2 linked regions of the Homo sapiens genome follow. The protein of the gene in region 2 interacts with the protein of the main gene of each other region in a biochemical or structural test. Each region holds a gene or a part of one and is shown on either strand. Other genes may lie near its edges.

What was found. Proteins that work in one complex are often made in the same cells at the same time.
Region 1: the proteins of JARID2 (region 2) and NKX2-5 form a complex in vitro, tested with the Homo sapiens proteins (one study listed by BioGRID).

Annotation. Positions count from the first base shown.
Region 1 is NC_000005.10:173,232,207-173,239,477, forward strand, and holds the start of NKX2-5 (homeobox protein Nkx-2.5), read right to left. Parts: upstream 3,001-7,271; 5' UTR 2,878-3,000; coding exon 2,544-2,877; intron 1,935-2,543; coding exon of another isoform or gene 1,840-1,934; exon of another isoform or gene 1,303-1,839; intron 1,296-1,302; coding exon of another isoform or gene 1,291-1,295; exon of another isoform or gene 1,259-1,290; coding exon of another isoform or gene 1,137-1,258; exon of another isoform or gene 1,004-1,136; coding exon 363-1,003; 3' UTR 1-362. UniProt on the Homo sapiens protein: Transcription factor required for the development of the heart and the spleen. During heart development, acts as a transcriptional activator of NPPA/ANF in cooperation with GATA4.
Region 2 is NC_000006.12:15,508,052-15,515,072, forward strand, and holds part of JARID2 (protein Jumonji), read left to right. Parts: intron 1-288; coding exon 289-403; intron 404-912; coding exon of another isoform or gene 913-1,063; exon of another isoform or gene 1,064-1,306; intron 1,307-3,244; coding exon 3,245-3,350; intron 3,351-4,156; coding exon 4,157-4,339; intron 4,340-4,863; coding exon 4,864-4,994; intron 4,995-5,187; coding exon 5,188-5,371; intron 5,372-7,021.

The DNA of each region.
Region 1 (7,271 bases), on a different chromosome or scaffold from region 2:
AGCAAAGGCCCGGGCGCCCGGCCCTGGCTCGCGGAATGGGCGGCCAGATCTCAGGCCCTGCGTGCCCGAGCTCAGTCCCAGTTCCAACCGGGGGTGCCCATGGACTCTCGGAGGGCACTCCTGGGGGGACAGCTAAGACACCAGGCTGCAGGATCACTCATTGCACGCTGCATAATCGCCGCCACAAACTCTCCCGTGCGCAAGAACAAACGCGCGTGGGACAGAAAAAGTTCCTAGGTCTCCGCAGGAGTGAATGCAAAATCCAGGGGACTCAGGGTCATGTTGGGAGCCCCTTCTCCCCCCGAGAGTCAGGGAGCTGTTGAGGTGGGATCGGTCAGGGTCGCGCCACGCGGGTCCCTTCCCTACCAGGCTCGGATACCATGCAGCGTGGACACTCCCGAGTTGCTCTGCGGAATCCCGGGGCTCTGAACCGCATTCAAGTCCCCGACGCCGAAGTTCACGAAGTTGTTGTTGGCGGCGGCAGTGGCCGGCTGCGCTGGGGAAGGCCCGGCGGGGTAAGCGGCAGTGCAGCTGTAGCCAGGGCTGCAGGCCGCGCCGCCGTAACCCGGATAGGCGGGGTAGGCGTTATAACCGTAGGGATTGAGGCCCACGCCGTAGGCAGGCGCGTAGGGCGCCGAGTCCCCTAGGCATGGCTTGCCATCGCGCACCAGCACTGGCACCGCGATCCTGCGGGCAGGCGGCGGCGGCGGCGGGGGCAGCCCCACCAGCTCCAGAGTCTGGTCCTGCCGCTGCCGCTTGCACTTGTAGCGCCGGTTCTGGAACCAGATCTTGACCTGCGTGGACGTGAGTTTCAGCACGCTGGCCAGCTGGTCGCGTTCGGGGGCCGACAGGTACCGCTGCTGCTTGAAGCGCCGCTCCAGCTCATAGACCTGCGCCTGCGAGAAGAGCACGCGCGGCTTCCTCCGCCGTCGCGCCCGGGGCCGCTCCGCGTTGTCCGCCTCTGTCTTCTCCAGCTCCACCGCCTTCTGCAGCGCGCACAGCTCTGAGGGGGAACAGAGAGGCAGAGAGACGCTTGGTAAGAGCGGCTTGACCTACGGAGCGCGGCCGCACAGTAATGGTAAGGGATCCTCGTGGAGGCCACTGTGTCCTGCCTGGAGCGCCCAGCTGGCTGCGGCTCACTCTGCCAAGTGCACTGGGAGCCACCGACACGTCTCACTCAGCATTTGTAGAAAGTCAGGCTGGCTCAAGGCGCTGGAGAACAAAACGGGAGGTCTCTGCCCTCGGGGCAGTTCACACCCTGGTGAGGGAGACAGACGGTGACTTAAAATTTCAGGCTGCAAAAAAAAAAAAAATAAATAAAAAAATAAAAAAATAAAAATAAAACCAGGTGATGCTCTGGGGTGAACTGAATTAGGGCTAGTTTGGTTTGAGAAGTTAAATGAACAGAGGCCGAGGCCTCACTGCTAGGGACGGTCTTATCTCAAAATTAAGGAATCAAGAAACAGAAGGCCAGGGAGTGTTGGTTTGGTGATCGGAGGCTCCAGCCTGGCCGCAGCAGGGTTTGCGCAGTGTCCAAGAAGCTGCGGGTGGGCAGGCGGCCTCGGAACCTGCCTTGCTGGCTTCCTCGAATTGGTAGCGATCAGTTCTAGCCGCCGTGCCCGCCCGAATTTGTTCCCAGGCCTCTGCTCCTCAACAAACCTATGAATTCTCTCCCGGCTGGCAGCGGCCCTTCGCCCAGCGCTTCGCCCAGCGCCTGCGGCCTCCCGGGAATCGCCCGGGCTCCTGCCTTGGGCTGGGGGGTCTCCCAGAAGGCCCCTTTCTGCAGCGGGGCCGGCCTCCCTCCCCGATCCTGGGATGGCCTGCGGGATGATCCCGCACTCATCTCGTCCACTCCCTTGTGCCCGCGGTAGCGCAGCATTTCCTAACTTTTCCACGAGGGAACCTCTCCGCCCTGGCCGCGCCGGCAAGTTGTGCTGAAAAAATAAAGTGAAGTCAGATTCCTGAGGGTCCGCAGTATCCCATTTTAAAATCAAGGCCCTCGATCCCAGACTCCACTTTCCTGGCGCAAAGAAAGAAAGGCACCAGAAACCCGGGTCGTGGGTGGGCTGCAGAAAGAAGGTCCAGGACCCTCCTCCGATTGTACGCAAAAGCTGTCTGGTGAGCAACATTTCAATTTCTGTTTAGCGGTTCTCATCAGATCTTTAAAAAGATTCGTAAATCCAAAGGAGATTTAAAAACAGAGATTATCTGCTTGTCTCTCTGTTCTGTCTACCATAAACCGATTTCTCAACTTCCTACCAGACCCAGGAGCAGAGCCGAAGCCGCCCGGGGCTTTGTTAGGCCGGGGGGAAACGTTTTTTGGTCTCTTGCTTCTGATCCTTTCAATCCGGCATTTCCTCTGAACCTCCGATTGGACGCGGGGCGCGGGAGCCTGGCGACAACACCAGGCATCTTACATTCTGAACCCCCCGCCGCAGCCCAGCCCTCGGCCCAAGGGCGCGTGTCTCCTCCTCCTGGCCCTGAGTTTCTTGGGGACGAAAGCGACCCAGGAGGGGAGAAGGGGGCCTGTGTTTCCTCCTCACCTTTCTTTTCGGCTCTAGGGTCCTTGGCTGGGTCGGGGTCGCTGTAGGCACGTGGATAGAAGGCGGGGGCGGCGGGAAAGGCAGACGCACACTTGGCCGGTGAAGGCGCGCGGCCCAGCTCTGCGCGCAGCTCTGGGAGGCCCGGCGCAGCCGCCTCGGGCCCAGCGTAGGCCTCTGGCTTGAAGGCGGCCAGCATGCAGGAGGAGGGCGCCAGGGTCGCCTCCAGGCGGGCAGAGAGCTCTCCGGCGGCAGCCAGGCTGCGCTGCTGCTGTTCCAGGTTTAGGATGTCTTTGACTGAGAAGGGCGTGGGCGTGAGAGCAGGGCTGGGGAACATGGTGGCAGCGCCAGTCTCACAGCGCCAGGTGGGCGGCAGAAAGCGGCGCTGCCCACGGCCCCTGGCAGCTTCCCTGCATGGTGCCGCCGCCCGCCCGCGCACCCGTCGGCCAGCTCTGGATGTGTCCGGGCAGCAGGTAGCGCTGAGCACAAGGGGCAGGAGAGGCGGGACCAGGCCAGAGGAGGGGGACTCAGCCTGCCATTGGGCCAGGGGCCTCGATGACAGGAGCGATGAGCAGTTTCGTGTCACCTAATATAGTCATACGGCAAAAAAAAAAAAAAAAAAAAAAAAAAAAAAAAAAAAAAAAAGCCCTGCCCAGCTTTTTTAAAGGGGCCACGACGCATTTGGAAGGGTCTCCTTTTGCTCCTGCAGCCTGCGTTTGCTCCCTAATGTGAGCCTGAAAAGCCTACCAGAGGCATGCAGAGTCAGGCCTCTGGGCAGGGCTGGATGGGTGTGGGTTTGAAGAAATATTCCTCAGCACCCAAACCAGCATGGGAGAGAGAAGGATGGGGTGGGAAGCGGTGGGGAGGAGAGTGATTTGAGGAAGGCTTTATTACTGAAGGTGGTGGGATGAGGGAGAGTCTGAATAGGAAGAGAAGCCTGGAGGACAGGGCTGGCTTTGGGGATAGCAGCAGGGCGAGATTCTGGACAATTCGGGGGTTTGGTTTGGCTTGGCCTACAGGGTCAGTCATGCCGCAGGCTCTGGGTGCTTCTGGGCGAGTCAACGAAAGTAAGGGCAAGGTGAGTGATGGCCAGGTGGGGTAGGAGTTGCTGCCTCCTACAGTAGTGTTATGCACAGCACAACTCCAGGGGGCATCAGTCACTGCCAGTACCCTCCCAGGGAAATGCCTCTCCCCTTAATAATGAAATAAATCAGGAATCCCAGCTGGTAAGCTCAGCTTCCCAGGAGACACCTGTCTTGTGGAGTGCCCCAGCTACCAGCCACCTTGTTTCCCCTGTTTGGAGGCCATCGATCCCACCTCCCTCCTTCCCGTGCCCTCCCTGCCTGGCAGCAAGGCCCTCAGGCTTCTGCCAACCTCGAGGTTTCAGGGTCCTAGCCCAGGTTTAGCTCTCAGGGAGGCGGGGCTCCTCTGAGCCCAGCTAGGCCAGGATTTCTCTGAGGCCTCTGGGCCGGACTTCCAGTGGGGCACCCCTGCGGCTCGGTCAGGCGCGTGGGGGAAGGGCAGGGCAAGTGGGGTGATCATGATCATTTTTAGCCCAGGGTCAGTAGAGTAGGGCACAGAAGTCAGACAAATCTGCCAGAGTTTCAGGAGCGCCAGCTACATGGCCAGATCCTGCCCGGGTGGCCTCATTTCTCTGGGTCCCCGCACTCCTTGGGAGGTCTGATGAAAGCTTGGGGTCTTCTCCATTCCCCAGAACACTGCAGAGAGGAGTTTTATTTTGCTTACAATTCAGGAGTCCGGGCAGGCAGAGCGGGCCCAGGTTAAGGACGCCTTCTAGAGCTGGGGATGACAGGATTTGTCAGTGGAAAAGCGTTGGCTTCTCACGGCCCTAGCTGGTACAGGGAACCGCGGGCGGGAAGCTGGGCGGGACGCGTGGACTTGCTGAGAATGGGGATGTGGAGGGCTTGGCTCTTTGCGGAGTGCGGGTTGGCAAGAGGCGCTTGGAGTAGAATAAAGGCGGCGCAGGGCCAAAAACTACCTAAAGACACAGCTCCCGCAGGCGCGCCCAAGGTGCGGAGGAAACGCTCCATGTATGGGGACAAAATAGTGTCTGTCCAGAACGTACATCTTGGGTGCTCAAACCCGACAGTGTGCCGTCTGAGACGCCGACGCAAGTGAAGTCAAGCATTGGCCTGATGTTGGGACTTTTCCTGTCCCTCATCAAAGCCACACTCCCAGGACCTGGGGCCTCCATGCTGGGGAGAGAGGTGAGCCCCGCAGGGCAGCCCAGGAGGCGCGCAACGCCCTGACCCCGGCTTCTAGGCGCCAGCCGTCAGTAACAGGCCTGGGCTGCCACGCCGAAATCACGCCTCGAGTTTCTGAGCCAGGGACTACTGGGGGTCTGGAATTGTTAGTCTAGTCTGTGGAGGATGCCTTTTCTTAAATGTGGGGCGTTCAAGGCCCAGGAAACCTCGTCCCCCCACCTCTTCACCTCCCAACCCAAATTCTCCTTGGACGGAGCTGCATGTCAGCGGCCTTGCGGCCCTTCCTCGCCTGGACTTTTGGCCACGTTACCGTTATGGCTGTAAATTAACCTAGCTTGGGGGCCCGCCTTGCCTTTGAAGATTGTTTTCGAGCGCGGGCGGGGGGGGGTGTCGTTGGAGAGGATGCCTATCGCCGAGGCGGTGACGTCTGGCAAACGAGCCACATCCGATTCAATTAAATGTCTCGCTGAAAAGAGCTCGGAACGAGGGTCCTGGGAGCGCTGTTAAGTGAATCTGCTGGCCAGGCGGCTCGCGATGACAGTTTGAAAGATTAGTGTGAGCGGACGCCTGAAATATTACCGTTTAATGGGGGACATCGAGGCTACATCCGGGATCCCTGTTTTTAGTAAGGTTTTTTTTTTTTTTTTTTTGAGAGCTCTGGAGAAAGAAAAAAATTAGCATTGCCCTTGCAAATCAAGGTGGCAAGGATTTATTTCCTATTTTCGGGTAAGGGGGCTTCCTAGAACTGTCAGTCCTGTGGGTCAGGTGTTACAAAAAGGGAAGGAAAAAAAACTCTCCCTATTTGAACAAGATCAGTGACTGTTACACTCTCTATGCTCTTTGTGAATCGGGTAATGATTTCTCTTGGCTTCCAAAAAGGTCTTGGTGTTGCAGGAGAGAGGAGATGGGGCAAAAACGGACAAATACGTGCAAAATAGAAATTGGGGCGACCCATGCTGGTCTCCTTAGAGGAAAGTCCGAGAGCCATTTGCAGCTTTTCTTTCCAGTCCTCACTGTTTCCGAGTGAGTTAAAAAAAAATCCCTCTAAATAGATCTAAATAGAAATTGCAATAGTTGGGGGTTGGGTGGGAGGAAACTTGATTCTCTGGCCCCCAACAGGGACACATCTTTTTTTCCCAAGGGCCGCTGACCCAACCTGGCCGCCTCTCTGCGCCGCACTTTGACCAAACTAGCAGGACAAACAAACAGCCTTCAGCCTAGAGAAAGGCAGAGAGAGACAAAAGGAGAGAGAAGAGATCGAAAATCTATCTGTGTATTTCCTTGACTTTTAAAGAGTTGGTGCTTTAAGATAATCCAAATTCCAGGGTGGCTCGAGCGCATTCTCCGTGAATAAATTATTATTAATTGAAAAGCGATCGGCGCAGCCGGAGCCGGCCCCCCTTTCGTGCAATCAGCAGGGCTGGTCGCAAAAGGTATATATGATTAATTGAAAGATAAGCTGGAACTATCACCGGGAATGTCATTAATGCGCTGGGGAGACGTCCATTGGAGACAGGCGGCGTTATCCGCGGCTTTATCTTCAACAACGCCTCGCTCTCGGCCCGCGCGGGGGAAACAGATGGGAGTTTCTGTCTGGGACGCTCGCCCCATGTTTATATTTTGGGAAGAATCGCAACTCGTGGGAGTCCCCGGCTGGCCCCCTGATAAATGAACATTAGCACTTTTTCGGACTACTGTATCAACAAAGGGGCTGCGGCGCTGCAATAATTGGCGAGAAAGCAAACAGAGGGCCGAGAGCGCGACTCTGCTCTTCGTCCGGCTGATGGATGAGCAGCTCCGGCTGCGCGCCGGACTCCCGGCCTCGGCCTCCGCCTCCGCCTCCGCCTCCGCCTCCGCGCTGGGCCCCTCCGCCGCCCGGCTTCCTTCCTGGCCGGGAGTTGGGGGCGGGGGGCGACTCTGAGGGCCGCCGACCTCGCCCTTGGCTCCGGAAGAGTCCAGGCGGCCTCCGCGGCACCGGATTTTTCCTGCCTCGGGACTCGCCTCATTCAGGTGGCTCAGCTGGCACCAAATCCTTCTCATTTCCACGCTTGTTCAGTGCCCACGGGGTGTGCCAGGCGCTCTCACGGATCTCGTCACGGATCCTCTTATTCCGACTGCAGGCCTGAGGAGAATGAGGTTCAGAGACGTGGAGTAAGTTGCTCAGGGTCACACAGATGGGAAAGGACAGTGTCAGGGTGTTAGGATTCGAACACACAGCTGACTGCACAGCTGAGACTGTTTTCTTTTATTACACGTCGCTGCGCCCAAGACCGTACCAACTGGAGGAAGAGCAAGACCCCCACCATCACCCCCCACCCCGCAGCCAGGGGAGAGGACCAGGCTGTTGGATTTGAGATGCCAGGTCTCCCCAACCTTCATAGACAAGGGAGATTTCCTGCATAAAGTTCATTTGAGAAAGAGAGGGGGAGAGAGGAATTTAACATGCGTTCATTTCACTTCCGCCTTCCCCTCCCCTCGCTCTCCCACTTTTCCTTTCCCTTCTCCC
Region 2 (7,021 bases):
CCGTGGGCGGCCGGTTCCTCGGCATTCCTCACCAGGTCAGGTTCCTGCGGCCACCTCCCTCATGAGGCCGACGTGCTCCTGATGTTTTGAAGCGGTGTTCATATTCTCCCACTTCTGTAGAGCAAGCAGGAAAGAGTAGGTACCTTCTGCTCACTGTCTTTTGTCTGGCTTTGAGTCCCATTTCTTTTCCTTCTTGTTTTAGCGGAAGAAAGAGATTTTTACTTACTGTTCCTTTGAGACCTTGTTGCCTAGCTTTTAAAAATGCCCTTTTCACTCTTTCTGTTTTAGGAGTGACTATTCCCTGGCTAAATATTGGCATGGTCTTTTCTACCTCATGCTGGTCTCGAGACCAAAATCACCTTCCATACATTGACTACTTACACACTGGTGCTGACTGCATTTGGTGAGTACTGGCCCCAGGCGGGAAGGGAGGGACTGCAGAAACTACTATTACCACATGAAGTGGGGCCTGTGGGTAACTTCTTGTCCAGGTGGTTCCACGTGCTTGAGAACTTGCTTCTCTGTGTTCAGGCCTGTCCTGCGTTCCCTGCCGAAGCCTGGGCCTGGGATCACCTACCTCTGTTGGAAGAGTTGGGGTGCTGGAGAATGTTGTAACACTGTCTGATGATGAGCAAATCTTTTCATATGCTTAGTGGCCATTTAAGTTCCCCTTAGTTCCTTAAGTTCCCTTAAGAATTACCTACTTACGTCTGTTTTTGTTTTGTTTTGTTTCGTTTTGTTTTGTTATGGATTAGTCACTTTTTCTTGTGGATTTCCAAGAGTTATTTTCACCTTAGGGTTAAGGAACAGTAGTAAAAGTGCCACACAAAGCTAACCAGTAGTAGTGACCGTGTCATCAGCCCTCTAGTAACTGAATATAAACCGTGGTATTTCATGATTGGTTATTTTCAGCCTCTCTGTAGAGCCAGTGTTTCCTCATCTATCGGTGGCTGTGGGGAGTAGAGTTGACTTGGGAATCTCGTTCCTGCCATGTGGAGACACGCGCGTTATGTACCCTGTGGAGTCTGTTGCCTGGCGAGGTGTTCTGGGTCCCCGCCTGTAATCTGACTCTCACTGTAGCCATCCCTGATTGAGGCTGGGTCCCCGCCTGTAATCCTGACTCTCACTGCACCCATCCCTGATCGAGGCTGGACTCTTTGGTGTCTTTGTTTACGGCGGCAGATGGGAAATGACTACAAATAATCAGATGTCTTGTCGTCTGATCGTTTACCGGCATGCTGTTCATGCCATGCTGACTGTGTTTATTGCCCTAATGGGGTGATTAAACATTCTTTATTAAAATAAACAAAGTCTTAGGACTCGTGTTCTCCCTCTTTGGAGCCAGCGTCGGCTGCAGCCTCCTCATTTTGGCTGTTCTGGTGAGTGGTGCTGTGGACATGAGGGAGCCCTCCCTTCCCACATGGGTCTGTGTGCCATGGACGGTGATCATGGTGTCCTGCAGTGGGTCCAGAGTGATGGGCCCGGGAAGCCCAGGCTGTTGCCTGTGGAGCGGGGACTGACAGGAGCCTTGGGGCTTAGCCGGGCCAGGCCACCAGCTGGGGAGGGGACAGCCAGGACTATTCCGAGAGGTGCCTTTGCCTCCGGAAGAAGAGCGTGGCCATTTCCTGTGGAGGAGTTACACTGGCTGTGGCATGGCCTGTGTTCTGGGGTCATCCCCAGGCCAGTGACCTCAGGCCCGAGTTTCTTCCGTGTGGGTTTGCTTATGGCTTGACGTTGAGTCACAGATAGCAAAATGTGATACCCTGTGTGGGCTTTTTGAAGACTCACTCCTGGAACCTCATTGACAGGAGAGAAAGAAAAGGCAGGGATAGGATCAGAGAACATGATGGTGTGTAGTTTTTCTTAAAACATGTGATTTAGGTTAGAAACCCTGTATTTAAATTACCAATCAGTAACAGAATATGTTGGCATTGAAAATAACATGAGCATTAAAAAAAATACTTCCTTCACTGAGCAACTGAAACCAGGATTTGGCCTCAGAGAGAAATGCTTTCATCACAGACACATAGGGGCTGCAGAGTTGCTGCCCGCCTGGACCTGGGGGGCGGGGGCTGTGGGGAGGGGCTGGCGGTGTTGCCCTGAGCTGCTGGCCCACATCTTTGTGTTTAATGGTGGTTGATGGCTTCACTGGCTTAGCATCCTGAAGACCTGTCAGGCCCCTCTCCACACTGATGTCCTCCTCTTGCCTGGGGAGGAGCCCCTCAGACAGCCTGAGACACCCAGGGGCAGGGCAGCCATCCCTGCACCCCTGCCTTGCGGGGGGCCTCCCCTCACATCCCCCTCATTCATGCTGTGAGCCTGACACCAGGGGCGTCACACGTTGTGAGTGGAAGTGTGGCCCTGGTGGGCTCCAAGGACATGGGCAAAACCTCCTCCCCTCCCTGTGATTGCCGTGAGGAGGCCGTGTAGGTTACTTTCTACCTGTACCTCCCACCTTTTCTTACACTTGAGGACCCCTGCCATGGTTATACCCTGGAGGGTCTGTGAGCCACCACTTCCCCAGGCCACCCTCTGACAGAGGCCTATGAGCCCTTGATCCTCCTGTGTGTCTTGCTGTATGTGCCTGATGCCGGGTAGGCTGGGTCCTAACACGTAAAACTCTCCAGTGGGGAGCAGAGCTGGGGGCCCCTAGCTATCCCCTGACCCCTACTTCACCACAGCATCTGCCAAGGAGTTGGCCTTGAGGTGGCACATGTGCATGAGCCTGGCTCCTTCCCCAACTCTCTGTGCATTTGTAGAGGGCAGGGTTTACTGTTCCTGTCTGGAGGGCCGAGGGAGCCACGTATTCCTTGTGAGGACATTATCAGGTGCTGCTCCTGCAGTGGCCTCTGTTAACAGAAGGAGGGTGCAGTGCTGGAGCCTCAGAAGAGGCTCGTGGAGGCCGCAGTGTGTCTGGTTCTGATTTCTAGGGGTTTGTGAACATCTGTTTGTGGTTTGAAGGCTTTTTGGCTCACCAGGTGGGTCAGATCTCCATAAAAGATGAGCATCTCGCAACGCGGATGCACTGTGGTTTGGCTGTGTGCTAGGTGGACGTGGCACTGCTGCCATGGGAAATGGGAGCCAGCAGTGACCAGGCACCCAGCCAGGCCAGTGCGCCATCCCTGCCGGCGTGGAGCAGAGCCTCTCGTGTGCTCGGGTCCCTGAGGGTGACGGGGGTGGCCCAGTACATGCAGGAGGCCCTTGTCAAGTCTCTGCTTGTCTCTTGTGTCTCTCAATGACCCAGGTATTGCATTCCTGCTGAGGAGGAGAACAAGCTGGAAGATGTGGTCCACACCCTGCTGCAAGCCAATGGCACCCCAGGGCTGCAGATGCTGGAAAGCAACGTCATGGTGCGTCCACTCAGCCACCGCCTCCAGCAGGAGCTGTAGGACCTCCTAGGCACTTGAACATGGTTTCCCATGAACCCGCCTTTCAAAGGCAATGAGGACACAGCAAAACAAATCCCCAGGGTGCAAAGGGAAAGGTCCTCTGACACAAAAGCCAAACTGACCTTCCATCAGATTGCACAGGGCGCTGGGGTTTTGCACGGCCTTTGCATCTGTTTTGGGGCTTGTTTGTGTTGTGGGCTGCTGTGGGCCCTGGGATTTCTTGTGCCCGCCGCTCCTACCTTCTGGGCATGTGAGAGGAATGAGCACAAAGGCTTCTTCACCTGTTTTCAGGAAGTCATGGGGCTGGTGAGTTCCTGGGAAGTGCTGCTTTGAGCTGAGTTCTGACCAGCTTCTCTGGCCTCTGCTGACCCTGCCGGTCCCGCCTGTCCATCTTAGAGAAGAGATGGACGGGGGACTCCTTTGTAAGCCCAGCCTGTGGGCCTGTGGCCTACTTGGCTCTGGAGATGAGCCCGGCAGCCTCCTGGTTGTGTAACCTTGTCCTGTTTCCAGCCCTGGCATTGCCACGTGGGGACAGAGGGGCCTGTGTGGTCATCATGTCCTCAGCTGTGCATGAACCTGTCATCACTCTTGGACCAGTGCAGTTTAGAAGCTCCTTCTTGTGTTATGAATGACGTCTTTTTATTTTCCACATAAAACAATCTTATCTCCTTGAGAGCAGGCCTCTTAGGGTGCGCATACGTCACCTGAAGACTGCAGGTGTCCCTGCGCACAGGGAGGGGTGCCTCAGCCTGGCCCTGTCTCCCCAGATCTCCCCGGAGGTGCTGTGCAAAGAGGGGATCAAGGTGCACAGGACCGTGCAGCAGAGTGGCCAGTTTGTCGTCTGCTTCCCGGGATCCTTTGTGTCCAAAGTGTGCTGTGGGTACAGCGTGTCTGAAACCGTGCACTTTGCTACCACCCAGTGGACAAGTATGGGCTTTGAGACCGCCAAGGTGAGCAGAGCCGGCCTCCTCCCGCTTGCTGCCCCCGCATCCCTGTGAGTGCCGTGCGTGAGCGCACACAGAAGCATCCCTGCGTGTGCGTGTCTATTTGTCAATAGTTCCTTTTGGAATATGTCTTTGAAATTCTTAAGACGTGGTTGAAAGGTCTTCTAGGAATGAAAAGTTGTTAGGGATTTGTTTGTATCACAAAGAGTTTTGATCAGACCGTTACTGACAGACCCCTCCAGTATTGGAAAACTGTTGAAGATGCTCAAGGTAATTGCTTAGAATGGACAGAGAACCTCCACCCATCGTGAGGGAGTGGCAGCTGCCTCTGGGTAGCGGCGAAGTGCTATGACTTTTCCTGGTATGTGGTGCCTTTCTCACAGGGAGGCAAAGTTTTGAAGAGTTTTTAATCTAAATGCAATTCAAGATTTAGAAATTCAGACAGCCTGCCTGCCCCCTCCACCAAGAAGAACCTTGACAGCTGCCTAGTAATGAAAATCCACCCTAAAGGGATGTGACTCCTCTTTCAGGAAATGAAGCGTCGCCATATAGCTAAGCCATTCTCCATGGAGAAGTTACTCTACCAGATTGCACAAGCAGAAGCAAAAAAAGAAAACGGTCCCACTCTCAGTACCATCTCAGCCCTCCTGGATGAGCTCAGGTAACAGACCCCCAGAGCCCACGCCAGAGAGCTGGACCCGGCTGCCCTTCGGGGGCTCACCCCCCGAGCAGGCCTCACTTCCTGACAGGAGGGTGTGTCTGCAGGGAGGCCGGTGTGGGGTGCGTGTGTCCCCTCTGCTGGTGAGCATGGCAGGCCGTCACTAAAGGTGCGGGCCGTCTCCCGTGTCTGGCAGGGATACAGAGCTGCGGCAGCGCAGGCAGCTGTTCGAGGCTGGCCTCCACTCCTCCGCACGCTATGGCAGCCACGATGGCAGCAGCACGGTGGCGGACGGGAAGAAAAAGCCTCGAAAGTGGCTGCAGTTGGAGACGTCAGAGAGGAGGTGTCAGATCTGCCAGCACCTGTGCTACCTGTCCATGGTGAGCCCGCCTGGCCCTGCCGGCGCCCTCGCATGTAGTGCTTGGCCTGAGAGCTCCGGGGTTGCCCCCAGAAGAGGGAGGGCGCTCTCTGCCCAGGAGACCTGCTGTGCTCCCATCTCTGGAGCCGGCTGTGGGACCTCGGCGGAGCTTCTGGCCGCCGGAGGTGGCTGCCTCACCCACAGTGACCAGGCCACACAGAGGCTGTCCCTCTGTTCTGCCCACGCGTGGCCCTCCCTCGGTCCTGCAGTGCGTCCTTCCTCCCTGGGGAGCAGGTGGCCTCCCTCTCCGCCCTACTTTGTCACTCCAGCCCCCACGCACTCTGCTCTTACCCATTCTTTCTGAGGCAGTGAGGGGCGGGTTTCCAGTACTGGGCAGCGTCTGCCATTCCCTGTGGCCTGTGCCTGGTGCACCTGGGCCCATGGCCTCTGCCCTTTGGCTCTGTTCTTGGTTTCCTGGTCCTGCTCAGCTACATGATCTGCCTCAGCCCCCGAGGACTTCAGAATCTATCCTTGGTGAAAGCTGATGTTCCTCCTGTCCCATCTGGGATCAGAGATGCTTTTCTGGCACAGCCACTCCAGGCCACAGCAGGCTGCATTCCTCTTGCCTTCTCGACTGTGCCCTGCTGGCTTCCTCGTGCCCACCTGCCTGCCTCAGCTTTGGGGTTAATACCAAACACCTCCTCCCCCTGCTCACCCCTGTTCCAGCCCAGAGGTGGGCTCAGAAAAGCCCTTCCATGGCGACTGGATGGCTGTGGCCTCGCCATGCTTCTTCCAGTCTCCCCTTGACCTCTCACCAGAGAGCTGCCCTGACACACTCTGGGTAGGGACGCCCAGCTGGCACTGCAGATGGCTCCACAGCACTACACACCTTAGCCTGGAACAGAGAGCATGCCCGAAGGGCCTGACCTGCCTCCCCGGGCCTCGTCCCTTTCCACAGTGCCTCACATCTCCAGTACAGAAGCCTAGCTTAGGAGGTGCCCACCCCATATGCTGTGTGGTGCCTGTGTCCCACAGGTGCCCCCTTCGGCTGCACACTCGCTGAGAGGCCAGTGCCTCTGCGTCCCTCTGCTTGTCCATGGTGGGCCAGGACTGAGACCCGGGTCGACTCTCCTTGGCCTCCCAGTGTGACTGTGTCATGCCGTCTCACCCCGAGTCCTGGCGTGCCCTGTAGAAGAGGGAGGACACAGCCTCTCCCGGATGAGTCAGATCGTCAGATCGTCAGATCAGGGCTTTGTAACATTTGAAAGAGCTAAAAACTCGGTGTGTCCTCATCTCCTCCTTACCTAAGGACGCAAATCACATTGTATCAGATAGGCCCACCCTCATGGCCTCATTTGAGCTGATTTACCTCTTTAGAGGCCCTACCCCCAACTGCAGTCACAGCTGAGATCCTGGAGGTTCAACGTTTGCATTTGATGGGGGACAAATGCAGTCCGTGACCGCCCTGCCTCCTGTCCTGTAGATTTCCTTCTGTCTGGTTTTTTCCCCCAGACTTCTCAAAATGTATTACCTAGAGCCATTTGGTTCTTAAAAGAAAATGATGATAAGCATTTTCCCAGATCTTCAAAGTATCTTATAAACATCACTGATAAAAGCTGCATAGCTTGGTGTGCTCTCTCTCTGTTCTTTTTTTTTTTTGTTTGTTTGAGAC